Linked DNA regions of Homo sapiens. The protein of the gene in region 2 interacts with the protein of the main gene of each other region in a pairwise test. Each region holds a gene or a part of one and is shown on either strand. Other genes may lie near its edges.

Evidence for each region.
Region 1: the proteins of ZBTB8A (region 2) and GPATCH2L interact in binary tests that used the Homo sapiens proteins (3 or more experiments, as listed by UniProt).
Region 3: the proteins of ZBTB8A (region 2) and BAZ2B interact in binary tests that used the Homo sapiens proteins (3 or more experiments, as listed by UniProt).
Region 4: the proteins of ZBTB8A (region 2) and ZNF276 interact in binary tests that used the Homo sapiens proteins (3 or more experiments, as listed by UniProt).

Annotation. Positions count from the first base shown.
Region 1 is NC_000014.9:76,209,930-76,215,626, forward strand, and holds the end of GPATCH2L (G patch domain-containing protein 2-like), read left to right. Parts: 3' UTR 1-4,414; downstream 4,415-5,697.
Region 2 is NC_000001.11:32,596,652-32,605,426, forward strand, and holds part of ZBTB8A (zinc finger and BTB domain-containing protein 8A), read left to right. Parts: intron 1-3,435; coding exon 3,436-3,768; 3' UTR 3,769-8,775. UniProt on the Homo sapiens protein: May be involved in transcriptional regulation.
Region 3 is NC_000002.12:159,319,032-159,327,806, reverse strand, and holds part of BAZ2B (bromodomain adjacent to zinc finger domain protein 2B), read left to right. Parts: intron 1-1,888; coding exon 1,889-2,154; intron 2,155-2,852; coding exon 2,853-2,996; intron 2,997-7,388; coding exon 7,389-7,542; 3' UTR 7,543-8,775. UniProt on the Homo sapiens protein: Regulatory subunit of the ATP-dependent BRF-1 and BRF-5 ISWI chromatin remodeling complexes, which form ordered nucleosome arrays on chromatin and facilitate access to DNA during DNA-templated processes such as DNA replication, transcription, and repair.
Region 4 is NC_000016.10:89,716,581-89,725,532, forward strand, and holds the start of ZNF276 (zinc finger protein 276), read left to right. Parts: upstream 1-4,956; 5' UTR 4,957-5,060; coding exon 5,061-5,265; intron 5,266-5,950; coding exon 5,951-6,254; intron 6,255-6,556; coding exon 6,557-6,603; intron 6,604-6,679; coding exon 6,680-7,129; intron 7,130-8,952. Other genes in the region: VPS9D1 (VPS9 domain-containing protein 1), read right to left, coding at 1-44, 150-242, 2,447-2,522, 4,183-4,281. UniProt on the Homo sapiens protein: May be involved in transcriptional regulation.

The DNA.
Region 1 (5,697 bases), on a different chromosome or scaffold from region 2:
GAAGGTACTTCAGATGCTGGACAGCCAATAAGAATAACAAAGGTCCACCAGAACCATTGCCCCAGTCACTGATTGAACAAACATTTACTGAACACTGATGAAGCGAAGTCCTCCTCAGGGACCTCTTAGGGAAGAGGGTAACTGCCCTAAAGCAGGATACTCCTGGGCTCCTTAGATATACTATCCTTGAAACTATTAGGCCCCTGTCCAGAGTACCTAATAATAATAATGGCAAATATGTATTTGGTGGTCTGCCATTTGGAAGCAACATCTCACTTATTCAACAACTCTAAAGGTAGGTACTTTTATCTCCATTTTAAAACAATGAAATACACTTACAGTTACAGACAAACTTGCTCGAGTCACATATCTATTAAGTGTCAGTCAAGATTCAGATTCAAGTCTGATGTTAAAGAGTGTCTGTTCCCAATCAATACCTCTGCTGCCTCTTTTTACAAACTGAACTGTTGGAGGGCATGTACATATGCATAAGCTGTGGGCCACTGGGCCATGGGCCAGTGTCTGATGAGACCTCTTTATTGACTTGTTTGTCCTGGTGGGCTGTTTCTCTACCAGGCAACTGTGAATGGGCTCATCCCTTCTCTGTGCGTACATGATTGAAAGGAGATAGCCGGTTTCTGTGACATCCTCTTATAACAACCTAGTTTTGTTCTTGAGAGTGACCAGAGCAAGAGAAAAGTCAATGAAATTTTGCAGATCTTGCAAACCTGTGGCAATAAGAAGGTATTATCCTTTCTGTACCAAGGCACAACTGATTCCTAAGTGAGGGGGATATGTGTTCTGAGATGTTAATGTTAGTGATAGACTGTTTTCAACACCTTGGTAAACATTTCTTTTGACTGTTAGCAAAAGCTGCCTTAACAGTCTTGGCTTTTAGAAATGCCCCTTCATTCATTAGATGTGTATGGAACACATCTTATGCCAAGCACTCTGCTAGGAGCTGGGTATACAGAGAAGAAAGGCATTCCTGCTCTCATGATGTTCATGGTCTTCTGCGGAAGAGACCAGAAAAAAAGTATTACAATGTAGAATGAAATAAGAATGACAGGGTATTTTGGCAGCAAGGAGGAGGGCACTTTAACTCAAACTGGGCAGTGGAAGAAGTAAAAAAAAACATTGAAAGAAATCCTGAAGGATAAGCAGGAGTTAAGAAGAGTGGATGAAGCCCTCCAAGGGTAAAAGCATGGTTTATTCAGAGCACTGCAAGTGTTTTAGTATGGCCCACATGTAAAGCTTACAGAGGAACAAAGAGAGAAAGGCAAGAGCCAGGAAGTGAAGGGTCCTGTGTATACTGGCTTACTTGTTGAGTTGGAGAACTATTGCCGTATTCCTCTGCTAAGCTCAGGGTGCATTCGTGGAAACCCTACTGCAACTGGCCCATTGTGCATACAAAGCTGGAACTGAGATGTGAACAGATTTGCATTGCCTTGATCACCTTCCGTGGGAAATATAGCTAGGCCCACTTATTGGTAGGAGCTACTGACATGTTAAAACTAGGTTAAACTGAATTGGAAGTAATGGTGTATTTGGAATCATGGCTGACTGATTCCATTACATGTTCTAGCATGATACCAGTCTGAGGTTATTCCCCTTGAACCACCGACTTAGTAGAGTTTAATGCACAATGTGATGGTCTTAGTTCCTTGTACTGTTCTTCAGTGTCAAAGTTGTTCAACTACCAGTTAAGTTTTTTGGGCTTTGTTTCTCAGTAGTGACAATAAATTTGTGTTGATCTATTTACACCTTTTGGACTGAACACCTTAGCAATCATTGATATTTTAAGCCTACAGGAAGTGCCCATGGGATAAAACCAATCTGCTGGCTCACACTAAGTTCTGATCCCATGATTTTGGTCTCATTAATACCGTGCTATAAATAAAGTTAGCTAAATCTTTTGAAACTGCATAAAAGTGAAATAATTATGAGTTTTGGGCCAACATTTTTCCTGAACAGCTTCTGACTGACCAGCATTTTAAATTAGGCGATGCAGTCTAGCTTTTGTACATAGAAATAAGAAAGTGACTTATGTTCCATTATTAAAATAGTATAGGGAGGACAGGTAAATTACTAATTTTTCATTGCTCATAGTAGAGAATTAAGGTATATTGACTAGTGAAATAGAGGATTATGGGGATCATATGAAAATATGATTAAAGAGATTATCACTAGAAGAAAAATTCAGACTGCTAATTATGAGAAAAAACATGTATGCACAACCAAACAAATCACAAAAATGAAAGATGTCTAAAACCATAGAATAGGAACAAATGTACCTGTCATATTAATAAAAGTAAACTTATCTGTAGATAAAAGGCAAAAATGTCAGCAAACACTAATTTCATGTTATAAGATTCAGAAAGGTTGAGCAAAAGTAAACCAAGCAAACACAAACAAGAAAATGAGTTGTAGTCTGCATATCAGGCAAGGTTGAACTTAGGGAAAAGGAACCGGAAAAAAAAAAACCAAAAAAAACCACGACATAATGCTAAAGGGTGTGACTCACGAGATAATGTTTCTAGATATCTGTGTACCAAATAATGGAAAACCATTTATGTATTGGAAACCATAGGAGACACAGGAAGAAACAAATACAATGTTAGTTGGATATTTTAATTCAATTCTGTCAATTCATGACAGATCAAGTGGATAAAAAACTAGGACATGGGATGATTTAAATAAGATACAGAAGATCTAGTTGATGCATATTAGACTTTACCCTAAAAGTGGTAACTACACTTCAAAGTATCCATGAAACATTTCCCCATTTGACTGTGTATTAGAGCGTACAGAAAACATAAGTTTCAGAACGGAAAAAAGGAACAACAGATGGCATTTGCTGATAAAAATGCAATAAACTTAGAATTTGAGGATAGGTGGTCAGAAAAAAAAATGCAATAAATTAAAGCCAGAAAACACTGCTCATCTGCAATCCAAAATGTTTTTAAGCTCTTCAACTATTCTTGGGTTGATTAGGAAATGCAAAGTATTAAAAAAACATTTCATATCTAAAATATAAACTTGTTCCTCTGAGATACAAATAAAACAGTGCTCAGAGGAAAATTCATTGCCCTAAAATTTATGTATTAAAAAATAAGATAAATGTCATATAACTCAAAATATTAGGAAAAGGAATCTTTTAAAGGCAGGCTAAAAGAATCAAGAAAAATTAATTAGAAAAATGAGGAAACAAAGCTAATTTTTAAAATATGTAGTAAAATATGTAACATTTTAGCTAACATTACAAGAGAAGACAAACACAAAATAAGAATTACCAAGTATTGAATAGGTAAGAGTCATAAAATATTCTTTGCTCAACTGTATGCAAACAATTTAAAAACTTGGATTAAATGGATAATTTTCCAGGAAGGTATAGTTTGCCAAAAAATGACATCAAAAGAAATCTAATATAACAATTGTCATAGAAGAAATGAAGTAAGTATTTCAATTAGCATGACAGACTAAATACTTTTAAAGACCCAATGAAAACAAAGAAATGCATTTGGAGAATTAACAGAAACTTTTTGTAACACCAATTTTTTATTTTACATTTTAAAGCATGGAATGGAATTTATTGTAAAGACGTGTATTTTATAGAATCCAAGCAAAAGCTCACCAGCCAGAGATAAAGTGAGGCCAGCTCAGGGAATGTGAGCAGTGGCGATTTATTCCCTCTGGTGTTCCATGTTAGCCTGACACAGAGCCCCCTCTTCACATTCTCAGGGGCTCTTGATCCAAAACCTTTTTTAAAAAAAATAATTTTAGACTTAACAGAAAATCTGCAAAAATAGATTTCCTGTGTGCCCTTCTCTCAGCTTCTTCTAATGTTAACTTACATACCAATGGTACAATTATTGAAACTAGGAAATTAACATTGGCACAATCCTATTAACTACATACTTTATTTGAATTGTAGCTGTTTTCCCAGTAATGTTGTTTTTCTGGTTCGGTATTCAATCCAGGATCCATATGTACTTGGGTCTTTCTGGGTTTTCTGTTCCACTGGTCTACTTGTGCATGGTACCACACTGTTTTAATTATAGAGACTTTATAGTATGTTTTAACAACTGGCAAGGCTAGTCCCCCTTATAATTTTTCCTATTGTGCTTCTGGCTATTCATACATGTTTGTTTTTCCATGTGAACTTTAGTATCAACTTGTCTAAATTCATTTTTTAAGGTACATTGGTATTTTATTGATATTATATGATATTAACTGATTTAGAGAGAACTAACATCTTTAAAATGTGGTGTCATCCTATCCAAGAATAGGAGATGTATTTCCATTTATTCAAGTCTATTTTGTGCCTTTTAGCAGTGTTTTAAAATTATCCTTGTGTAGGTTTTGTGCATTTCTTGCTAAGCTTATCCCTAAGTATTTAATTTATTTGCTAGTAAATGAGATTTCCTCTGCCATTATGTCTTCTAACTGGTTATTGCTCTCTATATAAAAGCTACTGATTTTGTATGCTAATATATCTTGCTACCTTACCTAATTTTTTTAAAAAAATAAACAACAGAAATTTATTTCTTATGGTTTCACAGTCTGGGAAGTCCAAGATCAGGGTGCTGGCTGATTCAATGTCTGGTGAGAGCTTGCCTTCAGGTTCATAGATGGCACCTTCTAATTGTGTCCTCACATGGTGAAGGGAACTAGTTAGCTCTCTGGGGTCTCTTTTATAAGGGCATAAATCCCAATCACTAGGGCTCCACCCTCCTAATCTAGTGACCTCCCAAAGGCCCTGTCTTCAATGCCAACACTTTGGGGGTTAGGATTTCCACCTGTTTTCGGGGGACACAAACATTTATACCATAGCAGTCAGTAACAAACTCTTTTTGTTTTGCAGCCAAAGGTCAGTCAGTTTTATCTTCTTAGCTTAGTATAATCTAAGCCCTAAAACCATGAAATGCATGGGAAAGGTTTTTTTTTCTCTTTTTCAACTTTTATTTTAGATTTGAGGGGTGCATGTGCAGGTTTGTTACCTGGGTATATTGCGTGATGCTGAGGTTTGGGGTATGAATGACCTGTTACCCAGGTACTGAGCATCCGTACAGAATTCTTTTACTTTTGAAGTTAGTTTTATCATTGCTCCTCTAGAAAAACAAACAAAAAAACCAAAAATTATTTCTAAACACCCAGAATAATAATAAGAAATGAAAAAAATCTATAGAAGTAAAAAATGACAGACATTTATGCAGCCAAAAAACACATGAAAAAATGCTCATCATCACTGGCCATCAGAGAAATGCAAATCAAAACCACAATGAGATACCATCTCACACCAGTTAGAATGGCAATCATTAAAAAGTCAGGAAACAACAGGTGCTGGAGAAGATGTGGAGAAATAGGAACACTTTTACACTGTTGGTGGGACTGTAAACTAGTTCAACCATTATGGAAGTCAGTGTGGCGATTCCTCAGGGATCTAGAACTAGAAATACCATTTGACCCAGCCATCCCATTACTGGGTATATACCCAAATGACTATAAATCATGCTGCTATAAAGACACATACACACGTATGTTTATTGCGGCATTATTCACAATAGCAAAGACTTGGAACCAACCCAAATGTCCAACAATGATAGACTGGATTAAGAAAATGTGGCACATATACACCATGGAATACTATGCAGCCATAAAAAATGAGGAGTTCATGTCCTTTGTAGGGACATGGAT
Region 2 (8,775 bases):
CACACAACTCTACCATATTTAAAATTCTTCCAACTTAGTGTTTTTACTTTGCACGTAAAGCATAATTATGTATATTGATTTTTAATCTCCTTCAAGACCTTGAAGTGGGGTATATTCTTTTGATGGTAAATAGTTTTATATTTCCATTTTAATTCACTTAGTCTAATATGTTTTTATATACTGGTCTGTTCAGAGCCAAAGATAATATAAACTGTATAAATGCTTTAAGTGTCTAGGTCAGAATCACCACTGTAGATACTCAGCATCTACCAGTGATTACTGAATCCTTGTCTGGTAGGATTTCAGTCTAGTTGCGGCTGTCCAACCAAAGGAGGTCTCCACTACACCTGCTTTCTTTTTTCTTTTTTTTTTTGAGACAGAGTCTCGCTCTGTTGCCCAGGCTGGAGTGTAATGGCGTGATCTTGCCCCACTGCAACCTCTGCCTCCCAGGTTCAAACAATTCTCCTGTCTCAGCCTCCCGAGTAGCTGGGACTACAGGTGCCCACCTAGTTTTTGTATTTTTAGTAGAGATGGGGTTTCACCATGTTGGCCAGGCTGGTCTTGAATTCCTGACCTCAAGTGATCCATCCACCTCGGCCTCCCAAAGTACTGGGATTACAGGCGTGAGCCACCACGTCTGCTGGTCTTATATTTTTAGATATCATATGGTCTCAGGAATTTGAGGAATTGTATTGGTTTATTATGTTTGGATCCACAATTATTATTCCTTTTGACACTCAAATTTTTAGTTTTATCCAGTGAACAGTCTCTACCTTGATGCTGGCTCTTGTCTCCTTTTGTCACAACTCCATTAAATTTTGAAAGTGTCCTTGTTCTCTGGCTCCAAAAGAGGCCTAGACTCACTTTGTACTTTCCCTACCACAGAGCTGGAATCAGCCATTTCTCAATCCATTTCCTTTAGTGGAAAGTGAAATTAGAGCCCAAAGTCTGGGCAGTCATTGTTACGGAGGTGTCATTTCTTTTACACTATTTCAGTGGATAGAGTTAGAAGATACATATTTTGGAGGGATGGACATGAATCTGTATCAGAGCTTGTAACAAAAACAATACCACATTTGATACCCATAGTTTTGTTTGTTTGTTTGTTTGTTTTTTGAGACAGAGTCTCGTTCTGTCATCCAGGCTGGAGTGCAGTGGCACGATCTCAGCTTACCACAACCTCCACCTGCTGGGTTCAAGTGATTCTCCTGCCTTGGCCTCCCGAGTAGCTGGGATTACAAGCACATATCCGGCTAATTTTTTTTTTTTTTTTTGTATTTTTAGTAGAGATGGGGTTTCACCATGTTGGCCAGGCTGGTCTTGAACTCCTGGCCTCAAGTGATCCACCCACCTCCACTTCCCAAAGTGCTGGGATTACAGATGTGAGCTACTACGCCCAGCCTAATACGCATAATATTACTATCTCAGGAGAAATCAGAATTCATTCAAATCATGTACTTTTAATGTTTACTGATTAATATGTCAACAGTTACACACAGGATAATAACTGTACTAGTGGTAATTCCATACATTTTCCTACATATTTTACCAGACTGTATTAGCTTTCTTGGATTTTTTTTTTTTTTTTTTTTTTTTTTTGAGATGAAGTCTCACTGTGTCATCTAAGCTGGAGTGCAGTGGCACAATCTCAGCTCACTGCAACCTCCGCCTCCCGGGCTCAAGTGATTCTCCTGCCTCAGCCTCCCGTGTAGCTGGGATTACAGGCGTGTGCCACCATGCCCAGCTAAGTTTTGTATTTTTTTTTAGTAAAGATGGAGTTTTACCATATTGGCCAGGCTGATCTCAAACTGCTGACCTCAAGTGATCCACTCACCTCAGCCTTCCAAAGTGCTGGGATTACAGGTGTGAGCCACAGTGCCCAGCTTCTTGGAGTTTTTTACTGTGTTTGGTGCCCTACTTCTGCACTGTCCTGACTTTATTTAAATGAATATTCCATAAACATTGATTCAACATTATACAATTAATTTTTATAATTTTTAGATTAGAACCCATAATCTACTGTTCTGACAGCTATTGAACAAAATTGTTTATTACTAATTATAATACGTAATTATTCCTCACTACAACTGTTTACCAAAGCATTTCACACATGTTAACTCATTTGGTCCTCACATTAACCCTGTGAGTGATATTTCCATTAGCCAAAGGAAGCAAGCAAAGATAATACTAGGCTGATATATAGAAGCAGCACCATCGTAGTTGTTTATGATGAATGTCCAGTAGAATTAGTCAGGCTTCTCATCAGTCTGGGTGGTGCCCATATCTTACCAGTTAAATATTTTAACTGTCACCCTAAAGCAGGTTTATATAATGTTTTAAATTACTTGCTCCAAGAAGATAGTAAATAACTAGAACCCCAACCCTTCCAATCCCTGTGGTCCTCTTTCCACCAGATCTTTTATTAATAAAAATGGCAAGTTCTCCTTCTATCTAAAATATTAATAAATTTAAATTTATGCAATATTTTTCTTTCTCTAGTAAAATAACAAAAAATTAATACACAAAACAAGAGAGATTGCACCCCCCGCCCCCACCTCAAATTAAGATATGTTCAGCCTGGAAAACATAGTGAGACCCTTTCTCTATAAAAAATTTTTTTTTAATTAGCCAGGTGTGGTGGCATGCACCTGTAGTCCCAGCTCCTCGGTAGGTTGGGATGGGAGGATTGCTTGAGCCTGGGAGGCTGAGGCTGCAGTGAGCCATGGTCACCACTACACCGTAGCCTGGGTGACAGAGCGAGACCCTATTTTAAAAATAAAAAGTATGCTGGGCGCGGTGCCTCACACCTATAATCCCAGCACTTTGGGCGGCCGAGGCAGACAGATGACGAGGTCAGGAGTTTGAGACCAGCCTGACCAACATGGTGAAACCCCATCTCTACTAAAAATACAAAAATTAGCTGGGCGTGGTGGCACGTGCCTGTAATACCAGCTACTCAGGAGGCTGAGGCAGGAGAATTGCATGAACCCCGGAGGCGGAGGTTGCAGTGAGCCGAGATTGCACTATTGCACTCCAGCCTGGGCAACAGAGTGAGACTCTGTCTCAAAAATAAATAAATAAATAAATAAATAATAAAAATAATTAAATAAGTACATGGCACATAGTGTTTGCAATTATTATTATCATAGGAAGTTACCTCAGATACCAAATGCTATTGGATTAAGGGATAGGTGAAATTATTATGTCATATTAATAATAAAAAACATGATAGCCACTATTTAGAGAAAGCTGATGTTTAATATTTCTGTGACATCAATTCACCACTAAAACCCTTGATCTTTCTCTAAATAATAGATGTTAATTTGAGTTTAATGCATGGCTTTGAACATCTTAAGTTTATGAACTGGTACCTAAAATATCAAACTGTCCTGCTTTTGAAAAATCACTTTTATCACTATTTAAATCTCTACACAGATTCACCAGGCATGTAAACTCATCTGCAGAAAATGTAAACGTCATGTGACAGATCTAACAGGGCAAGTGGTACAGGAGGGAACCAGGCGCTACAGACTGTGTAATGAGTGTCTTGCAGAATTTGGCATAGACAGCCTCCCCATTGACTTGGAAGCTGAACAACATCTTATGTCCCCATCAGATGGAGATAAGGATTCCAGATGGCACTTGAGTGAAGATGAGAATAGATCCTATGTGGAGATTGTAGAAGATGGGTCTGCTGATCTGGTCATCCAACAGGTTGATGATAGTGAAGAAGAAGAAGAAAAAGAAATTAAGCCCAACATTAGGTAGCTGTAATGTGAACCAACAGAGCTGGCATGTCTGCAATTTACATTGACTTCCTGTATCTCTCTCTTTCTATGGTCGGAGTCTAGTTAACAAATTTATCACACTGACTTTAAAGAAATGATCTGATATAACTTGCATGCTTTCTGAACAGGCCATTGTATCCATTCTGAACTTTGTTGCCCTAAAATGTGTTGCTGCACTGGAAAGAAAGAACTAGCTTGAGTTGGCTTGATGGATGAACAATTATCCTCTTACTTTCATTACAATCCTCTTACTTTATTCCAGAGATACCTTTTTCTTTTAATATTGGAGGATCTACTTAGCAAACTTTTTTCAAAGAAAATACTTTAAATAAATTCACCACAACCAAACTTTATGTAAGACAATTTCAAGGTGTTTCAAAAACACATAACTACCAATGTTTAATTTCACAGGGAACCAGTTAAGAGCACATTTAAGGATCTGGCAACCCACCTTACTAAACAAATTAGTCTTTCTATTAATTTGAGATCTGAAACAACCTGTCATTACTCTGATATCCTGAACGTTTAAGGATTATGGAAGAAGACTAAAGTGTTTGAAATCATTCATATTTGAAATTTTTATCATTAGCTTAAAAATTACTCTCAGTATTGTTAAAAAAAAAAAAAAGTAGAGGCTGGCCAAAGATTATATACAGATATTTTCTTAAAGCAGGAAACTAATGTTGCCTAAAAGTCAAGGTAGTTTGTGAAGACAATCTGTCAATATGGTTGTCCATCTCTCTAAAGAAAAGCAGGCTGGGCGCTGTGGCTCATGCCTATAATCCCAATACTTTGGGAGGCCGAGGCAGGCGGATCACAAGGTCAGGAGTTTGAAACCAGCCTGGCCAACATGGTGAAACCTCGTCTCTACTAAAAAATACAAAATTAGCCGGGCATGGTGGCGGGTGCCTATAATCCCAGCTACTCGGGAGGCTGAGGCAGGAGAATCGATTGAACCTGGAAGGCAGAAGTTGCAGTGAGCCGAGATCACACCATTGCACTCCAGCCTGGGCAACAAGAGCGAAACTCCGTCTCAAAAAAAAAAGGAAAACAAACTAGGAGGTTCTTACCATATGTGAGTGATTTCTAACGTTTATGTAGTGCTATATTATTTATAAAGTACTCTCTCATGTATTTTCTCAGTGAGGTGGATACTATCTCCGATTTACAAATGAGGAAATTAAGGTCAGAAAGTCTGAGAGAGAAAACTGATGATTGGACAGGATCTGATTTTAAACAATCCTCTTTCAGCCTTCTCTCCCTGTATGTCTCCTGAAATGGCAAAGAATAGAAGTCAAACCTCACCAGTTGGCAGTCATTATAAAAATAAGCCAATCAGAATTAGAAAGTATGAAAGGAGGAATTGAATCATTTTCAACAACATACAATATCTTGATCTAGAGATTTTCAAATAATGCTAAGTAATGTCCCTACAGTACCTATTGGTATGTTTTTATGTCACGTTATTTATATGTAAATTTAAAGTATAAAACTATTTGAACAAATTATTCACTTAAATATGTTGAACATTTTTGCTTCTCTTGTTTATATAATATTTTCAAAACAAACTTTTCTCCTAGTATACAAAGTTTAAACTTCTCCCCTTTGGGCTGGGCCCAGTGGCTCACGCCTGTAATCCCAGCACTTTGGGAGGCTGAGGCAGGTGGATCACCGAGGTCGGGAGTTTGAGACCAGCCTGACCAACATGGAGAAACCCCGTCTCTACTAAAAATACAAAATTAGCCGGGCGTGGTGGTGCATGCCTGTAATCCCAGCTACTCAGAAGGCTGAGGCAGGAGGATAGCTTGAACCCAGGAGGCAGAGGCTGCGGTGGGCTGAGGTTGCGCCATTGCACTCCAGCCTGGGCAACAAGAGCGAAACTCCGTCTCAAAAAAAAAAAAAAAAAAAACTTCTCCCCTGCATAAATTATGAAACATTCCAAAATTACAGCTAAATTAGAGAAGCATTGTTTCAGTTCTAAAGGTAAAATCTAAATATCCGAAGTAAAGAACTGAGCTTCATAAAGGTCTCTTCTGCAAGTTATCACAGTGAAGCTTGATAGAATTTCACTGTATATGGAGAGGCTCCATCTATTTTACTGTTTTCTTTTTTGTTTTTGTTTTTTTTTCGAGACGGAGTCTCGCTCTGTCGCCCAGGCTGGAGTGCAGTGGTGCAATCTCAGCTCACTGCAAGCTCCACCTCCCGGGTTCTCGCCATTCTCCTGCCTCAGCCTCCCGAGTAGCTGGGACTTACAGGCGCCCACCACCACTCCCAGCTAATTTTTTGTATTTTTAATAGAGATGGGGTTTCACCGTGTTAGCCAGGATGGTCTCAATCTCCTGATCTCGTGATCCGCCCCCCTCGGCCTCCCAAAGTGCTGGGATTACAGGCGTGAGCCACTGCGCCCAGCCAATTTTACTGTATTTTTAAATGCCATGACATACCTCAAAATTATCCTTTTTATGTTACTATTTTCTCTTGTTCTTTCATTAATTATTGTCCTTGATACCAATTTCTAGGCTAAATTGGTTACTTTCTTTTAAAAAATTTAAAAATAGATGAATAACCACTTGTTTCATGGTACTTAATTGAGACTTTTTCAAGATTCCCCTGATGGCACATTTGCAGTTGCTTCAAGACTGGATGATGTGCATTGAGTTCTCTGTTCTCCCAACATGGCTGTTCCTAAATCAGGATTCTGGTTTTTTTGAGATGGACTCTCGCTCTGTTGTCCAAGCTGGAGTGCAGTGGCGTGATCTCGCTCACCACAACCTCTGCCTCCCGGGTTCAAGCGATTCTCCTGCCTCAGCCTCCTGAGTAGCCGGGACTACAGGCATGTGCCACCATGCCTGGCTAATTTTTGTATTTTTAGTAGAGACAGGGTTTCGCTATGTTGGCCAGGCTGGTCTCGAACTCCTGACCTCGTGATCTGCCCGCCTCAGCCTCCCAAAGTGCTGGGATTACAGGCGTGAGCCAGCACGCCCGGCCTAAATCAGGATTCTTAACAATTAAAGTGTATCTGAATGAGGAAGGAAACGCTTGTCATTCTCTAGTCTTACCCAATTAATACTGACACCTTTTGAAATTAAAACCTGATTTTTTAGTTGTTGGAGCCAGTAGGAAAAATGGCTGATTTGAACTTTTTTCCTATAAATGAAGTAGTGCTTGCATGTGTGTACTCTAATGCACTTTAGTCTATGATCTAAATGTCCTTTTATGCTATTATCTTCTGCATGCAAACTTTACATACATCAGCATGAATATCCAACATTCACTGAACACAGTGCCACCAGCACTTGTAATTGCCTTTTCAGAAATAATGCTTTCTCATAATTGTTTATAACGAGCATCAAACTATCCCCACAAAATGATCAAGTTCACCAAACTAGACAAAGAATCTGTTGTATCATTTTAACATCATAGAAGAACATTTAAGACATGTTTGTAAGTTGTAAATAATGACTCCAGTTATAGCATATATATCTAAGACGTTAGAGACCAGTTATTTTCTAGAGTGAAACTGTCTATTGATGATTGAGAAAATTGAATTCTTTGGTTTTTACATGTGGGCAAATGTTACATAGGGGTATAATCTGTTTAAATAAGCTTTATTTATGCCAAGGATTTTTTTTTTAATATCAAGACTTGGTTAGACCAAAGTTTGCTCTTGCAGGAATGCCATTTATCAGCTTCTGAATGCCCTTCTAACTCCATTACCCTCAAGAGTGTCTGGGTATAGGATGAAGCATTACAAAAAGAAAGCACCACTGCAGTCATGCCTAGTGTCTGGGAGAAACAAAATGGACTAGACCTGCAGTTTAAAATAATTTAACCCGAGAAACTCTTCAAATGAATTGTTTCCTAAAGATGCTCAAATTTAAGGGATAAACTCTAAAATCAGAGCTGCTGTGGTTAAAGTCCCCCACAAACCTTTCCCCAGACACCTCTGCAGAACTCAGGTGCACAATGTTGAAAACCATGGAATTAGACAACTTCCTGAATTCCCTTTGAGCCTTGCAGCCTCATTTCGTTACTCCTGTTACTCACGGTGCTTATAAGCAGGTAACCATATGGTCTCTTAGTGAAGCAAATCACATCCTTAGCACATGATGTTCCTTCTATGGGTATCAGATCTTAAGACTTTTTAAAATTTAGGAACAAATGTTTCAATATTATATTTTCAGTAATGCAATCAAAATAAGCATAGTTACTGTTTTCTGTACGGCTAAGTACTGCCTAATGGATGAAAGAAGTTTGGTGCTTCAATTATTTATGAGCTCAGAACTCAATTCATTAAAGTTATTTTGCCAAGTCATGCCAAGATATATTGAAATTTCCACTCATATTGGTTTTTAAAATTTTTTTTAGTCCTAAAATTAATAAGTATGGAAAATCACTAAAAGCAGTGTAGGATAAGGTGTGTTTAACTGGCCGGGCACGGTGGCTCATGCCTGTAATCCTAGCACTTTGGGAGGCCGAGGCGGGCGGATCACTTAAGGCCAGGTGTTCGAGACCATCCTGGCCAACATGGTGAAACCCCGTCTCTAGTAAAAATACAAAAAATAGCTGGGCATGATGGTGGGTGCCTGTAATCCCAGGTACTCGGGAGGCTGAGGCAGGAGAATCGCTTGAACCCGGGAGGTGGAGGTTGCAGTGGCCGAGATCGCACCACTGCACTCCAGCCTGGGTGACAGAGCGAGACTCCATCAAAAAAAAAAAAAAAAAAAAAAAAGATGTGTTTAACTGGGAAGGGTGATAATAATAGAATAATAGGTACAGGAGGACCAAACTTTAGATTATAAACCAGAAAGTTTTGTTATTTTATATAAGTGTATCAGTATTACTATTTATCATTTATATAGCATTTTATATTTGCAAAGTGTTTAATAATTTTTGTTATTCTTTACATATATATGAAATAGGACAGTTATCCCACATGAACGGTAAATAAATTGAGGCACAGAACAGTAAAAAAACCTCAGGGTCA
Region 3 (8,775 bases), on a different chromosome or scaffold from region 2:
CAGGCGTGAGTTACCGCGCCTGGCCCAATTTCATATTTTCTTATTGTGAATATTAATTTGTTAGAAAATTATCCCAAGTAATATTTTAGTTCAAATAGAAACTAAATGTTTTGGCCCACTATTCATAATTCCAGCTCTGTTTTAAGTAACACAGTTATTTAATCTAACTTGTCATTAAATGGACTTTTTCTTCATTATATTAAGTTCTCCTTTTTAATGATTTTAGAGATTCAGAGTAAAAGCTCAGTGTAATATAAAAACCCAAAATAATCAGATTTTAATGAATATAAATAACTAAATGGAGAAGAGACTGAATAAAACATATTAATTATTTCAGTTAGTGACAGGGGTTGTGATTCTTTGATATCATATGGTGAAAGTGTTGGATTTATGGTTTGCCTTATTTAGTCAATTAAAATATCTCCTTAACTATACTTTAACCTGCCAATAAAGAAACAAATAATTTTAACTGCTTAAGAGCATTTTTAAGTAAGGTACTGGCAGGGGTCATGAAATCCTCAAAGACAATGCTATGAAATACTCCAAAGGACTGTTTTTCAGCCAATTTTAAGAATACAACCAACTTTATTAGCCAGGCATGGTGGCTCACACTCGTAGCCCCAGCTACTCGGGTGGCTGATATGGGAGGATGTCTTGAGCCCAGGAGGTTGAGGCTGCAGTAAGCCATGATTGTACCACTGCACTCCCAGCCTGGGCAACAGAGCGAGACTGCCTCAAAAAAAAAAAAAAAGATTGCAGCCAACTTTAAATTATTGCTACACTGATTATGTGACTTTGCAGTCTAGGATTTCTTAACAATCTGGTTAAGGGAATAGTAGTTTTCTAAAAGTGTTTGGTGTGTACCACATATTTGGAAAATAAAAATAAAAGCCATACGTTGCCAGAAGTTTACATATCTTTCTTTCATGATCTATTATATTTATTATAACATTTAACTCTCAAAAGGCAGATTTTTTTTCTCTATGAATACAGGGTGGGGCACCCTTCTTGTTGCATCAGTGTGCTGCCTGCAATTTGTAGTTATATTGCATAAGACCATGTTGAGAGTTCTTTTTTGCATGTAATTCTAGAGCTAGAATGACTTTAGCAAGTATGTGGCTTGTCATCCTTATTTTTTAAGTGAGAAAACAGGGCCTCACAAATATTTTTGCTTAAAGTTAGTAGCAGAGCCATAGCTGGAATTCATATCCTTCGATTCCAAGTATAATGTCCTTTATGTCATTTCTTTCTATGTTGTTTTTCTCAAAAACAGACATCTTTTTGCCCCATCTTTCACCACTGCTTTGTTCACACCTGGGAACCACAAGTTTGTGGAACTCTCTTCTTATTGCAAATACCTGTTATCTTTTATCCAGGAAAAAAAATCAAATCAATTTCTAGTAGATTTGATCACTTGGACTTCTCTATTTGACACTTCCTTAGCTCTTTTTCATTTTTTGGCCTGGCTTTTTATTACCTCTTCAACTTTCTTATTAACAATCTCTATATTTTCATTTATATTCATCTTTGTTCCTAATTCTGTTGTGCTCCAAAAGAGAATTCTTTTGTATCTTTAAACTCATTCAAGTAGTGACCTAGACTGAAAGAATACTACAGACACCTTCTGTAGATGAATTACCATGAGATTAGCATCTTCAAGTTTTAAGAATTCTTAAGATGAATAGACTTTTCATGTTTTATTAGATTTTATCCTTATATTATGAGAGGAAAAAATACACAGATCTTTCTTAAGAATAATAGTTATCAACATTCTAGATCAGAGTTATTCTTTTTACTTATTTGTCCTGTCAGACTTTCATAATTTAAAATAATAGGTCTGTAGACAGTCACTTTCTTACACCTCATTTACTTTTTTTTTAAATTAAAGGCAAGTGGTCAAACTCTAAAAATCAAAAAACTTCATGTCAAAGGAAAAAAGACTAATGAGTCAAAGAAAGGCAAGAAGGTAACTTTAACAGGAGATACTGAAGATGAAGACTCTGCATCTACAAGTAGTTCACTAAAAAGAGGAAACAAAGACCTCAAGAAAAGAAAAATGGAGGAAAACACTTCTATTAACTTGTCAAAACAAGAAAGTTTTACTTCAGTTAAGAAACCTAAAAGAGATGACTCCAAGGACCTAGCTCTTTGCAGGTATTATTTCCGTTTTCATGCACTGTATATTTATAATGCCCCATTTTATTTGTTTAGAAACCTTTTACCATATTAAAGCTTTCTTTCTGATAATTTATGTAAATAAAAAAATGTAAAGCATAAATGTTAAGAAAATATATAAGTAAAAGTATAGTAAATGTATTCCTTTATCTTCTTTTAATGTTAATTTGCATTGAGTTTTTATTTGAAAGATTATAATTGGGCCTGGCACAGCGGCTCACACCTGAAATCCCAGCACTTTGAGAGGTCAAGACAGGTGGGTCACCTGAGGTCAGGAGTTCAAGACCAGCCTGGCCAACATGGTGAAACCCTGTCTCTACTAAAAATACAAAAATTAGCTGGGTATAGTGGCGTGCACCCATAATCCCAGCTACTCGAGGGGCTGAGGCAGGAGAATCACTTGAACCCGGGAGGCAGGGGTTGTAGTGAGCCGAGATGGTGCCACTGTGCTCCAGTCTGGGCGATAGAGCAAGACCCTATCTCATATATATATATATATATATATATATATATAAAATATATATATATATATATATATAATATATATATATATAATATATATATATATATAATATATATATATATATAATATATATATAATAACTGAAAGCTTTTTTAATTAAAAAATAAGACAGTTGTAAAGTATGGATACTGATTTCAAACATTATTTTCTTTAGTATGATTCTGACTGAAATGGAAACTCATGAGGATGCATGGCCTTTTCTACTTCCTGTAAACTTGAAACTTGTTCCTGGTTATAAGAAAGTTATTAAGAAGCCTATGGATTTTTCCACAATTAGAGAGAAACTAAGTAGTGGACAGTAAGTAAATCATTTCAGTTCACTAAATATTTATTGAATACCTGATATATGCTAGGCATATTTTTAGTGAGCCAAAGATATTTTAATTAACAGCAAGATATAGGCCCTGCCTTTGAGGCAGGTGTGTGTGTGTGTGTGTGTGTGTGTGTGTGTGTGTGTGTGTGTGTGTGTGTGTGTGTGTGTGTATTTGGTTAGAGTAGAATAGTATAGAAGAGAAACCAACTAAAATTATTTAAGAAATTAAAAACCCGTGTAATAAACCTGCTTTTGACATTGAAAGAGCACCACAAACCCAAGCTGAAGGTAAGGAAAAGTATCAGGAGAGCCTCCCAAAGTAAGTAACATATAAGCCGGAATTTGTATTTTGCATCCATGGAGTATCAACCACACGTCATATGGATTTAACAAAAATTGACTCAAATATTGTTAGATTATCACAATGTAGAAATAGAAGATCTTTGGAAGCTTTACATATTAAGAGCTTTAATGTGAGTTATTGGAGAATACCAAAATTCCATTTATTAAATGCGGGAGAGAAAGCTTATTTGCTTTTCTCTACCATATTCTCTTTGCAATCCTATTCCAAGAATAAAGTTACTTACTTTGGGAGGCTTTCCTGATACTCATACAATATATATTTTAATTACATTGTTATTATCCAGTATATTATTTAGTTCTTCCTATACATTCTTTTGGTGAAAATAACTGTTCTCTATGATTTATATTCAATTTAGAAGAGTTAAATAGAACTTATAATGATCAGCATCCCTCACATATATCAACTGATTTACTAGATTGACCAAATGACAAATTTATTTCTTTGGAGGATGAAATAACAGCCGTCCAAAGGTTTATGTCTGTTTTGTTTTATTATTTTTTAATTACAGAAGGGACCTGCCTAAGTTAAGGAAGCGTTTAAATGATTGATTGGTACTGATTGGTTCCAATATGCAAACACTGTTACCTAGATATGGACTAGTTCTTTTGTTTGTTCTTTTTTTTTTTTTTTGAGAGAGTTTCACTTTTGTTGCCCAAGCTGGAGTGCAGTGGTGCATCTCGGCTCACTGCAATCTCTGCCTCCCGGGTTCAAGTGATTCTCCTGCCTCAGCCTCCCAAGTAGCTGGGATTACAGGTGCACGCCACCATGCCTGGCTAATTTTTTGTATTTTTAGTATAAACAGGGTTTCACCATGTTAGCCAGGCTGGTCTCGAACTCCTGACCTCAGGTGATCCGCCCACCTCCACCTCCTAAAGTGCTGGGATTACAGGCGTGAACCACCTCACCCAGCCTCTTTTGTTTGTTCTATCAAAATAGTTGTCTAGGTAGATGGCACAATGAAATTTATAACTAACATGGCCAAGAAAAAGAATTACACATGAAGACTTTACTAGTATTTAAATTAACTCTTGATTTTAACTTCCATGATCTTCCAATTCCTGGATAAAAGATTAACGTAAACCTCAAAATTCCTAAAACAAATAGGCTTAGAAATATTTATAACAAAAAAATGCTACAAAATCATATGGGCCAGGCAAGGTGGCTCACGCCTGTAATCCCAGCACTTTGGGAGGTGGAGGCAGATGGATCACTTAAAGTCAGGAGTTCAAGACCAGCCTGGCCAATATGGTGAAATCTCATCTCTACTAAAAGTACAAAAATTAGCTGGGCATGGTGGTGTATGCCTGTAGTCCCAGCTACTCAGGGATGAGGCACAAGAATCACTTGAAACTGGAGGTGCAGGTTGCAGTGAGTTACCTCGCCACTGCACTCCAGCCTGGGCAACAGAGTGAGATTGTCTCAAAAAAAAAAAAAAAAGCTACAAAATCAGAGCTCCTTTGAAAAATGAGTCCCAGTGAATGGAGGAAGTCACAGGGGAAGAGAAAGAGAGAAGGAAACAGTCTGTGTATTCCTGTTTGTGATGCCAGGTGTGTGGGAAGCAAAATTTCAGTGGATTCAAGCTCCTCGAACTCTCCACTTTGAGTTGTTTGATTAAACCCAAATTAATGAGTTGGAACCAAAACTCACAAACCATATTTCAAATTTTTAAACTAGAAATTTTTAGAATAGAGGGAGGGGCCTACTTACATGAATTTTTCTGAGTTCCATTAGCTGCCCCATCCCATAAAGGAAGGACACACATATGAGTTGTATACTTTTTTCACCTAGAATCTCACCTAGAATTCTCTCCTGGACTCCACTCTCCCTAATGTTAATCATTAACCTTTTCTTAGGGTAAGGAACAAAGGCAGAAGTAGTTCTCAAATCAACTTTAAAATATTTTGTAAAAATCATTCCCACACAGATTGTATGATTCCATTTAGATGAAGTATCTGGAATAGATAAATCCATAGAGACAGATAGAAGATTGGTGGTTGCCAGGTACTGGGAAGAGGGAGGAATGGGGAATAACTGTTTAATGAGTATGATGTTTCCTTTCAGGGTGATGACAGTGTTTTAGAAGTGACGATAATACAGTGTTGTGACTTAAATGCCACTGAACTGTCCACCTTAATATGGTTAATTTTATGTGAATTTCTTAACCTCAGTAAAAATAAGCAAGTAATTCCTAGGAAAATGGATGAGGTTACATAAGGGCTGACTTAACTCTGTGAGCACATTACGCATAGAGAAATATTTCTTTCATTATCGCACAGAAGAAGCGAGTGAAAGGTCATACAAGATATTTCACCAAAGAAATAGAATTCCACTTTGACAAGATCTCACAGCGTCAGTGCCTCATAGGGTATTTCTCTTTTTTTAATTTTTATTTTAATTTTTGCAGGTACACAGTAGGTGTATATATTTATGGACTACATGAGATACAGGCATGCAATGCATAATAATCACATCATGGAAAATTGGGTATTCATCACCTCAAGCATTTATCCTTTGTGTTACAGATAATCCACTTCTACTCTTTTACTTATTTTAAAGTGTACAATTAAACTATGATTGACTATAGTCTCCTTGTTGTGCTGTCACATACTAGGTCTTATTCATTCCTTCTATTTTTTTGTACCCATTAACTATCCCCACCTCCCCACTGCAGTTCCCAGCCTCTGGTAACCATCCTTCTACTCTGTTTCCATGAGCTCAATTGTTTTGATTTTTAGATCCCACAAATAAGTGAGAACACGTGATGTTTGTGTTTCTGTGCCTGGCTTATTTCACTTAATATAATGACCTCCAGTTTGATCCACGTTGTTTCAAATGACAAAATCTCATTCTTTTTTTATGGCTGAATGGTGCGCCATTGTGTTTAAGTACCATGTTTTCTTTATCCATTCGTCTGTTGATGGACACTTAGATTGCTTCCAAACCTTGGCTATTGTGAACAGTGCTGCACCAAACATAGGAGTGCAAATATCTCTTTCATAAACTGATGTCCTTTCTTTTGGGTATATACTCAGCTGTGGGATTGCTGGATCACATGGTAGCTCTGTTTTTAGTTTTTTTGAGGAACCTACAAACTGTTCTCCATAGTGGTTGTACTAATTTACACTCATGAGATATTTTTAATGGTTACATTATTTTAGTATACAGATTGTCATAGGTTAGAATTAACTTAAAATTTGCATTTCTAAAAGCTATCTTTTAAAATGTATTGAACTGGCTTGAGTTGGTTTGAAATGACCATTCCCTTCTTACTAATAAGCTTATGCAGATTCATTCACCTTTCTTTTCTCTTTTCTGTTTTTCTACAGAGAAAGAGAATTGGGCTTATCCCGCCAGAAAAGCACAGAAGCCACAGTGCTTCTTGTTGAAAGACAGACCCTCATAATGTTACCTCTAGTAGAAAGATAGCATATGCTTGTTTTGCTTGTTTGGGTTCATCATACTCTATTGCTTGGGCAGAAGAGCACATATGAAGAGAAGAGAAATGGGAAATGGGGAAGACAACGCAGAGCACCATATCTTGGGGTGTATATAGAAGCTACAGGACAAGTGTAATTTTTATCATTGCATGGGGAGCATTGACATAATTTCTACTGCAGCTGAGCATTTTTTAATATGGATAATAGGATTCTGCAAGTGATACATTTGGTCAGAGAACTTAATAAACTAGTCAAGTGGGATAGGTCCTGTGACAGAATTGTGTGATACAGGTCAAACAGGAGTTGGGTTATGGGGAAAATGCCAGTTGAAATATGTTTTGATCTTTGGAGAAACCTATTTTTTCATTTAACCTGTTCTTTAAATCCAGTATGTTCCAGAACATACAAAAATGTTTAAATGTTCCATTTGTAAGAGGATATCATGTATTTTATATCAATTTAAATGCAGTTATCCTAATCATTTTTCTTTCATTTTTACCCTTTATTAACTCTTCATTTGTTTACAAAACAAATCCACTCTATGAACGCAATCTCTAATTATTTGTTTTCTTTCAGGTATCCAAACCTTGAAACCTTTGCTCTAGATGTCAGGCTTGTTTTTGACAACTGTGAAACATTTAATGAAGATGATTCTGATATAGGCAGAGCTGGCCACAATATGAGGAAGTATTTTGAAAAAAAGTGGACAGATACTTTCAAAGTGAGCTGAAGTTATAATAATCTCTTTATTTTTTTCCTTCTAAACAAGGACAAATGAGACCAGCAATGTGAACTGTATTTACATAAACGTGCAAGGCACATACATAATGACTTTCTTTTTCCTTAAGTATAAAAAAAAAGTATCAGAAGAATGATACCATTTTTAAAGGCTTCATTCCTACAACAACCAAGGCCCTCGGTTATTGGTTTGTGTGATTTATCAGCTAATTTAGGTAGAACAGGGAAGCACACCCAAAGAATTTTCAAAGGAAAGGGTGTTATAGTGCAATAGCAATTAAAATATATCAAATCGCACTGAATACTCAACACCAGAGCTCTAATGTGGGAAATGGTTCTCCTTTCCCTCTCAATAAATATCTATTTTTCATTTTTTTACTTTGTAGTTTATTTTTTAGTGAATGTATTTAATTTTATGAATTATTTATGATTAAACCACATCCAGAATCTTCGTTTTCTGTGAAAAGGAAGAACTAGAAAATTGCTTTAAATCTTGAAAATACAAGGAATGTTTTAAAATATAAAACAAAGCCAAGTTAAACTGTTTACACTGATGTGCTATAAAAGCACCAAAAAGAAACTTTACTGTAGAGTTACAAGTACATTTATATATATATGTTGCTGCATCACTTGTGTAGTTAAATTGTATTTCAAAACAGTGAAAAAATTGACATGTATATACTGTTCATTCTTGTTTATATTAAGTCTTGTTTTAAATATGTATTATGTGTATATATTGTTTGCAGACATTATTGTTCATGCCTTAGAGGATTGTAGCATTTTATTTTCGTCTGAAGGTAATGATAGCTATACAGTCTGTACAGTAATTATCCTCTACCAACACTGTGGCGTCTCCTTAATCTTGGTAGTGCCTGCCTTTGAAACAGGGTGTAGGGGATATTAGTTTTCCATTTTTCTATTTTGTTATATAATTTTAAGCCACCAGGGCCTAAATTAAAGTATAATCATTTGTATCCATGTGGAATAAAATTGTGACAATTTCCTACGCACACAGTATTTTTTCATAGAAACATTTCCCTCCCATTTGCCTTGCCTCAGAAATAAATTTAAAAGACGTTTGTAACCACTGTGTTTTATCTACTGTGTGTTGTGGTGGCCTGTTGGAGGCAAATAGATCAGATTTTTTTTGTACCTACGTAAGAGTACTTGAAGTTTTATTTAAAATAAAATGTTGTGGAAAAGGTAGCATTCTTTTTTTAGGAGT
Region 4 (8,952 bases), on a different chromosome or scaffold from region 2:
AATGGGAGCAGCTGCAGGCATGGTTGGCTTCAGGCGTGTTTTCCCTGCAAGCCATGGGTAACCAGGGGTCAAGCGGTGGGCCACATCCCACAGAGGAGATGCGGGCTTGGGGGATGCCCCAGGAGAGCCGCCTACTGCAGGAGACCCACCAAGCTTGGCGGCCGTCGACTGGGCCCTCTCCAGACACTGCTGTGCTAGCTTCAGCATCTTGGAGGTGTCGGGGGGCACAGTTTCCCCAGCTTCTGGGGGAGGGACAAGAAGGCTGGTCACAGTCGGCTCTACCACTGTTACTTACTGCTGAGATAAAATGAGGCAACGGAAAAGGCAGGCAAGCCCACTGCCCCCCTCAGCACCCCCACTGACCCCGGGCAAGCCCACTGCCCCCCCATCCCCTCACTGACCCTGGGCAAGCCCACTGCCCCCCCATCCCCTCACCCCGGGTAAGCCCACTGCCCCTCCCGTCCCCCAACTGACTGACCCTAGGCAAGCCCACTGCCCCCCCATCCCCTCACCCCGGGTAAGCCCACTGCCCCTTCCACCCCCCACTGACCCCGGGCAAGCCGACTATTCCTCATGGACCCCAGGCAAGGCCCCTGCCCCCACCATGGACCCCAGGCAAGTCCCCCCACCCACGCATTTCTAATCATCTGCCCTGGTTTTGCCTCCTGAGTCTGCTAAGGCTGTGGGCCCCTCATCGAGGCCCGTCACAGCCTCGACCCTAAACAGGCCTTTAGTGCTCACTCAGCTTCACTTGCAACTGCAGGCCTCTGGGAAGTGGCCGTTTTACAGAGACAAGGACGTGCTGAGGGGATCGCCTCACCCATCTCCCACCGGCTGTGTCCCCAAAGTCCTGCCTTCCCGTAGCTTGGCATGGAGCACCTCTGCGCGACCATGGACCTGCTCACACAGCCCTTCTGCGCGCCGTGGGAGCTGCCTCTCTGTGACTCGCCCCTGGACCCACCGCCCCAGCGCCTGACCCACCTCCCTGCTGCCCTTCACAGAAAACTTCTCATAGACTCCCATTTTCTCATCCCGCCCCGATTTAGCCCCCGACTCCCCCCGGAAACTGCCCTTACCCGTCCCCACCTTGCCAGACACGGTGGGCCACTGGAGTTCCTCTGTCTTCTGGGACTTTGCTCTCCCCAGGGGATCCTCTGCCACTCCTCCACCCAACTCCTCAATCTTGGAGCGCCAGAGCTCAGCCGAGCTCACCGGCTCCCTAGGGAGCTGGGGCAACTGTTAGCTCCCCCTGACCTGTGTGATCCTACGTCCAGTGGCTGCCCCGACCTCTGTGATCCCACGTCCAGGGGCTCCCCCGACCTCTGTGATCCCACGTCCAGTGGCTCCCCCGACCTCTGTGCTCCCACGTCCAGTGGCTCCCCCGACCTCTGTGCTCCCACGTCCAGTGGCTCCCCCGACCTCTGTGCTCCCACGTCCAGTGGGTCCCCCTGACCTCTGTGATCCCACGTCCAGTGGCTCCCCCTGACCTCTGTGCTCTATGTCCAGTGGCTCCCCCTGACCTCTGTGATCCTTTGTGCAGCGGCTGCTGGCCTCTCAAACTTAATGTGTTCATTGCGGAACTTGCTATTCCTCTCCTTGCCAGTTTGCTCCTGCCCCATCTGCCTCCTGCAAGTCTGCTCTGTTCCACCTTCAGGACGCACCCCGAGGCCGTTTACTGCTCCCATCCTGGGTGGTCTGGCCACTGCCATCCTCAGTCCTCACCTGAGGCTCCACTCCCAGGCTGTCCTCTCCCTCAAAGCTCAAAGTCTCTTCAAGTTTCCCTGCACACCAGAACGGCCCCAGTTCCACCCAAGGCATGCACACAGCCCCACCCCGCCCACTCCTATTTCAGGGCCTTTGCACACCCCACAGCTGGAATGCTGCCCCACGTCTGTGCCGCTCACTGGAGCCAGTGTCTTGCCACACCCCAGTCTCCATCTTCTTATCCACAACGCTGGTCCCTTCCTGCCACTATATCACACTGAGTGTGGGCTGGTCCACCTACTACAAATGGTCAGGCTAGAAGGATACAAGAGACCCCCGCCGAAGCCTGGCACCCATCAAGGGCTAGGATGCCCACAATTTGTCCAGCATGGAGGAAGCAGCAGGGCTCAGCCATGCCTTTTTCTTTTTCTTTTCTTTTTTTTTTTTTTGAGACGGAGTTTCGCTCTTGTTCCAGGCTGGAGTACAATGGGGTGATCTCGGCTCACTGCAACCTCTGCTCCCGGGTTCAAGCAATTCTCCTGCCTCAGCCTCCCGAGTAGCTGGGACTACAGACACCCGCCACCAGGCCCAGCTGATTTTTTAGATTTTTAGTAGAGACGGGGTTTCACCATGTTAGCCAGGATGGTTTCGATCTCCTGACCTCAGGTGATAGCCCGCCTCTGCCTCCCACAGTGCTGGGATTACAGGCGTGAGCCACCGCGCCCGGCTGGCTGAGCCGTACCTTTAGTGGTTTCCACTTCTTCTAGTAACACCTGGGAGATATAGTGGATGCTCCTCAGGTATTCCGTGTATGCCTCCTGTGTCCAGGAAAGAGAAAGAGTGGGGTCAGGCCAGTGGAGGGAAGTGACTCCATTATTCCGGCCAGGTGCCCTTGTGGGATAAGCAAGGAACACCACCACCTGCTTATCTCTGAGATACACCCAGAGACATTGAGCCTGCGGTGGTTAGCTGCAGCCGGAACACGGTTTTCTGCGCAGGGCACAGGCAGCATCGCTGCTCTCCAGACTTGGAAAAGACATCAGGACCTGAGAGAGAGAGAGAGCCAGGGACGAGCTGGACCTCATTTTCTCCTCTGACTGCCTTTCTCTCCAGCACAGGAACTGATATTCTCATTCAGTGGGCCTGGGGAAGTGACCTCAGCAGTTTGCTGTCATTTTTCATTCTATGCAATGTTTCCTTCTTGTGCAACTCAAGGGTGATTCATTCAGTGGCTTAAAAAAATACTTTTCTGAGAGGATAAAGGGAGTGATACTGGAAGTTTTCAAATCACTTCCCGGTTTAAGTTCCGAGAAATCCCTTTCCCAGAACCTGCGAGTTACGTATTTCCAGTGCACACAGGAGCCTAGAACTGTTACCTTTCAAGGCTGTGTGACCCCTCTGACAAGGCACAGGTCATTGGAACCACAGAATGGTGGTTTGTTTTGTTTTGTTGAGACAGAGTCTCACTCTGTCGCCCAGGCTGGAGTGCAGTGGCAGGATCTCGAGTCACTGCAACCTCCGCCTCCTGGGTTCAAGTGATTCTCATCCCTCAGCCTCCCAAGGAGCTAGGATTACAGGTGTGCACCGCCACACCCAGCTAATTTTTGTATTTTTAGTAGAGACGGGGTTTCACCACGTTGGCCAGGCTGGTCTCAAACTCCTCACCTCAGGTGATCCACCGCCTGGGCCTCCCAAAGTGTCAGGATTACAGGCGTGAACCACAGCGCCCAGCAATATGCTATGTTTTTTTGTTTTATCCCTAGCTGTTAAGTTTCCTATCTTTAAGTCTATGCCTCAGAGAGAAAGACGAAATATAATCCAGGCAGGATTTCTGACTTGCGGGGGCACCTGCTGCCCTAAAAACCAACTTGGGGAAAGCAGCAGATTCAGGAACGAGGCTTCTCCTAGGCACAGGCAGGCTCCTTCCCTCCTTGGGCAGCCGGGTGTGGCTGGGCCAGCTTCTCTACCTGGTCGCCAACCTTAGATTCGGCCCCATCTCAGGAACGGGCCACACCCCTCCGGCCTGCTTTTCCTTCCTAAGACGACTGCAAACAGCATCACAAATGAGCAGGTATGTGGCCTTCTCTGCATGCCGTCCCCTGTGGCAACCGGATTAAATCTACCATCTCTGCCCAGAAAAATGCACGAACGCACGGACCTGCCCGTCACTCGGATTTTGGAAGGTGGCCTGGCGGACCCTCCTGCTACATCTCCTCTACAGGTGGAGCCCAGGCTGTGATGCACCGGCTCAGCGAGCGGAGTGGAAAGCCAAGGTCCGCAGGATCTGAGCTGTCCAAGGTCACTGCACGCCCGGCTGCGCCCCGCCCCCGTCCTCGCCCGGGAACCGCGGCCCGGGATCCCGGCTGGCGCCCGCTCCCAAGTCTCCAGCCCGAGCCGGCCCCGTCCTCGCCCTCCCCGGGCGGGGGTCCCTCCAGGGGCCACCCTCAGCGGCCAAGCCCCGCCCCCGCCCCGCCTCACCCGGGGCCGGTTGCCGGTGTCCAGCTCGATGGCCCCGTTGGCAAGCTTCATGGCGCTCTGCAGCGGCTTCACCGTGCCGTCCCCGGCCGCAGCGGCCATGGCGCCGAGCGGGGGAGGCGGCGGCGGTAGCCGAGGGGCTGGACGGGCGACCGGAGGCCCGGAACGCAGCCGGCGCTGGTGCTGGAGCCGCCCGAGCAGCGGACCGCAGGAAGGGACGCGGCCGCACTTCCGGCGACGGGCCCCCTCCGCGCGTACTGCGGGCCCCACGGGTGTTAGTGGCGGGGGCGGCAGAGTCCGGGTGGGTTGTCGCGACGGAGCCGGGCCTCTTCGCCGTCTTGAGACGGGGCTGGCGAGAAGGGCCCCTCACGGAGTTGCCATGGGCGTCTAACCGCGGCAGCCAGGCCCCTCTCTACGTGAGACCCCGGCCCCCCTCCCCTTTCTGCAGCCCGCCCGCCACCTGCGCGCCGCGTGGCCTCCGCCGGCGCCTGCCCGCCCCGCGCCTCCGTCTCCCACGGTAAGAGGCGGTGAGGGCCGCGTCGCCTCTCCCTGGAGGACTCGTCGTGAGGTGTCGGCGAGCCCCTCCGCCCACCGCCCCGCCCCAGGCCAGCGCTCCATTGGCGACAGAGGCGGGCACGGCCGCCCTCGGGCCCGAGAGGGGAGCGGTACGAGCGGGGGCGCTGGCACCGCGGGTGGAACCTCGGCCGGCGGGGTCCCGCCCCTGGCCCCTGGCCCGCCCCGCCCGCCTCGCTTTGCTTCTCGCTCCGCCCCTCCCCCGCCCCGCCTCGCTTCCAGCGCGCCGAGCGGAGCCTAACGCCGGGTCCTCTAGGAACCTCGGGCCGGGCAGCACCCGCGGGATTCTGCTGGCGTCCTCCGCTGCCATGAAGCGGGACCGGCTGGGCCGCTTCCTGTCTCCTGGGTCGTCCCGACAGTGCGGGGCCTCGGACGGCGGCGGCGGCGTCAGCCGGACTCGGGGCCGCCCTTCCCTTAGCGGTGGGCCGAGGGTGGACGGGGCGACGGCGCGGCGCGCCTGGGGCCCGGTGGGGTCCTGCGGGGACGCGGGCGAGGACGGCGCGGACGAGGCAGGTGGGTCCGCGGCCCGGGCGTGGCGGGTTGGGGTCGCGGCAGGGGTTGCTCGTGGGAGGAGCCGCACTGACGCCCGGAAGCCGGCGCGGCCTCTCCTCCACCCGGCCAAGGGCGTAGCGGACTCGGGGCTGCGTCGGGATAGGCGCTGGGCGGCCGGCTCGGTTTTCCTCGCGCTCCGTGACGCCGGCGTCGCCGGCCCGGCCTCCCCGGCCGCGGGCTCGGCCAGAAGGGACCCGGCGTGAGGAGCGCTGTCACCGCGGGCAGGTCGCCCTGGGGTGCCCGCGCGTGGGAATCGCCCTCCCCTGCTTCGTGCCCTCGCGGAGCCGGAAAGGAGGCGGCACCTGCAATTGGCAGACAGGAAACCGCGGCGTTTCCTGGAGGGCGCAGCGCCTGCCCCGGGTCTCGCGGTCGCTGGGAGGAGGGTGCAGTTCCAGGTTTCACTCTTGAAGTTGCTTCGCTGGAGAGGCCTTAGAGGCCTTTGAAATTTGAAAGATTTCTTGGACCAGCGGCCACATCCCCCACAGGGCGGCTTGTCCCGCCGAGAGCCGCGCGCCCGAGCCGCTTGCTGTGTCCGGGAGCCGCGCGAAGGGCGCTGCAGGCGCTGCCCTCGGACCTGGAGTCCGGGACGCCCTGTGCTCAGGAGCCTCCTTTGCCAGCTGCTAACACTTCCTGCCGCTCTGTGCAGGAGCAGGCCGGGCTCTCGCCATGGGTCACTGTCGCCTCTGCCACGGGAAGTTTTCCTCGAGAAGCCTGCGCAGCATCTCCGAGAGGGCGCCTGGAGCGAGCATGGAGAGGCCATCCGCAGAGGAGCGCGTGCTCGTACGGGACTTCCAGCGCCTGCTTGGTGTGGCTGTCCGCCAGGACCCCACCTTGTCTCCGTTTGTCTGCAAGAGCTGCCACGCCCAGTTCTACCAGTGCCACAGCCTTCTCAAGTCCTTCCTGCAGAGGGTCAACGCCTCCCCGGCTGGTCGCCGGAAGCCTTGTGCAAAGTACGCCCTAGTCTGTTCAGAGCACGTTCAGGCTGTCAGTACTGCAGTGTGACGGGTGTTGAGAGAGGGACAGGGCGTGCCTCCGCGGGAGCCTCTGGGTGGGGGGAATGGGCCATGCCCGGGTTCAGTGCCAACAGCCCTGGGACTGTTGTGGAGAGATGAACTGGGAGGAGCTGGGGTGAGGGAAGAGAAAGTTGCCTATGGGGACCGCTGAGGTTTGAGATCTCGAGAGGGTCCCGTACGACGAGCGCTGTGAACCTCCGCCTGCTTGTCCTGCTCATGGCCACACTGATCCTTTGCAGGGTCGGTGCCCAGCCCCCAACAGGGGCAGAGGAGGGAGCGTGTCTGGGTGAGTCCTCCCCCGGTGGAGGGTGGGCTGGGTGCCGACCAGCCGTGGATCTGACATCTCTGTTGACTCTCTGCAGTGGATCTGATCACATCCAGCCCCCAGTGCCTGCACGGCTTGGTGGGGTGGGTGCATGGACATGCGGCCAGCTGCGGGGCCCTGCCCCACCTTCAGAGGACACTGTCCTCCGAGTACTGCGGCGTCATCCAGGTCGTGTGGGGCTGCGACCAGGGCCACGACTACACCATGGATACCAGCTCCAGCTGCAAGGCCTTCTTGCTGGACAGTGCGCTGGCAGTCAAGTGGCCATGGGACAAAGAGACGGCGCCACGGCTGCCCCAGCACCGAGGGTGGAACCCTGGGGATGCCCCTCAGACCTCCCAGGGTAGAGGGACAGGGACCCCAGTTGGGGCTGAGACCAAGACCCTGCCCAGCACGGATGTGGCCCAGCCTCCTTCGGACAGCGACGCGGTGGGGCCCAGGTCGGGCTTCCCACCTCAGCCAAGCCTGCCCCTTTGCAGGGCCCCAGGTAGGAGGCACCTCTTGCTGGTGCTAGACCAGGATGTGTGCTCCTCAGTGGGGCAGGGTTTTCAGCAGAAAGTGAATGTCTCCACTGCTCTAGGTGGTGGCTGGGGTGTGGTGTGAGAAGGAGCAGAGCTTGGGGCTTCTGCCTGCGGCTGCTCACCACATCCAGAGAGCAGGGAGGGGCGGCCAGCCTGTCTCCGCCTCTTGCTCCTCTGTGAGCAGGGCTCTGTTCCAGCAGTTTCTGTGGAGACACGCTCATCAGCCGTCGAGTCTTTTTCTAAGCCTGTGCTTGGGGCTGAGGGGACTGAGGAAGAGGGAAGAATAGGGCCTTGTCTGTGGATGTGGGAGAAAAGAATGGCCGTTGCCTCTGCGGCTGCTGCCCTGGGCCAGCTGCAGGTCATTTCCTGGCACTCAGCCAGCCGCCTGGTGACACCCTGGTGTGGGCCAGTGTGGCGCAGCTTTCTCTGCTGACAGGCTGAGGGGAAACACAAGGCCCTTGTTTGGGCCCCAGAACCCATAGCACTGTGGGCTGGTGCAGCTGCTCCTGGATGTTGTTTTAGGAGGGCCAGGGCCAGTTTCCCTCCGGCCTCTTGTCCTGTGTGTGCTCTGTGCACCTGTCCCCACCTGAGCACTCAGTTCCCACTTTGAGTCTTGAGGGGAGCTTCCGAAAAGCGTAGCTACCTGTAATCCCAGCACTTTGGGAGGCTGAGGTGGGTGGATCACTTGAGGTCACGAGATCAAGACCAACCTGGCCAACATAGCGAAACCCCATCGCTAATAAAAATACAAAAACTAGCCAGGTATGGTGGTGGGCATCTGTAATCCCAGCTACTCTGGAGGCTGAGGCACGAGAATCACTTCAGCCTGGGAGGCGGAAGTTGCAGTGAGCCGACATCGCACAACCGTACTCCAGCCTGGGTGACAGAGCAAGACTCTGTCCCAAACAGAAACACAGCTACCCAGATAGTTTAGCTAGATACGGGTGCACAGATGAGACAGTGCGGCTCGGGGGCCTCAGGTAGGAACGGGATTGTGAGTGTCACATCTTAGAGCTGCTTGGCTCTGTAAACTTGTATGCAGTGTGTTGAGAACAATTCTATCTATCTGTGTATCTATCTACCTACCTACCTATCTATCTTCCTACTTCTTTGTCTCTCTCTATCTACCTACCTATCTGTATATCTATGTATCTACTTATCTACCTATTTATCTATTTATTTACCTACTTATCTATCTATCTATGTGTTTATTTATTTTTGAGACAGAGTCTCGTTTTGTAGCCCAGGCTGGAGTGCGGTGGTGCCATCTTGGCTCACCGCTACCTCAGCCTCCCGAGTAGCTGGGATGACAGGCACATGCCACCACGCCCACCTAATTTTTGTATTTTTAGTAGAGATGGGGTTTCACCATGTGGGCCAGGCTTGGTCTCGAACTCCTGACCTCGTGATCCACCTGCCTCAGCCTCCCGAGTAGCTGGGATGACGGGCACGTGCCACCACGCCCACCTAATTTTTGTATTTTTAGTAGAGATGGGGTTTCACCATGTTGGCCAGGCTTGGTCTCGAACTCCTGACCTCGTGATCCACCTGCCTCAGCCTCCCGAGTAGCTGGGATGATGGGCACGCGCCACTACGCCCACCTAATTTTTGTATTTTTAGTAGAGATGGGGTTTCACCATGTTGGCCAGGCTTGGTCTTGAACTCCTGACCTCGTGATCCACCTGCATCAGCCTCCCAGAATGCTGGGATTACAGGTGTGAACCACCGCGCCCAGCCAAGAACAATACTTTTTAAAACTTATTTTAGGCCAAGTGCAGTGGTTCACGCC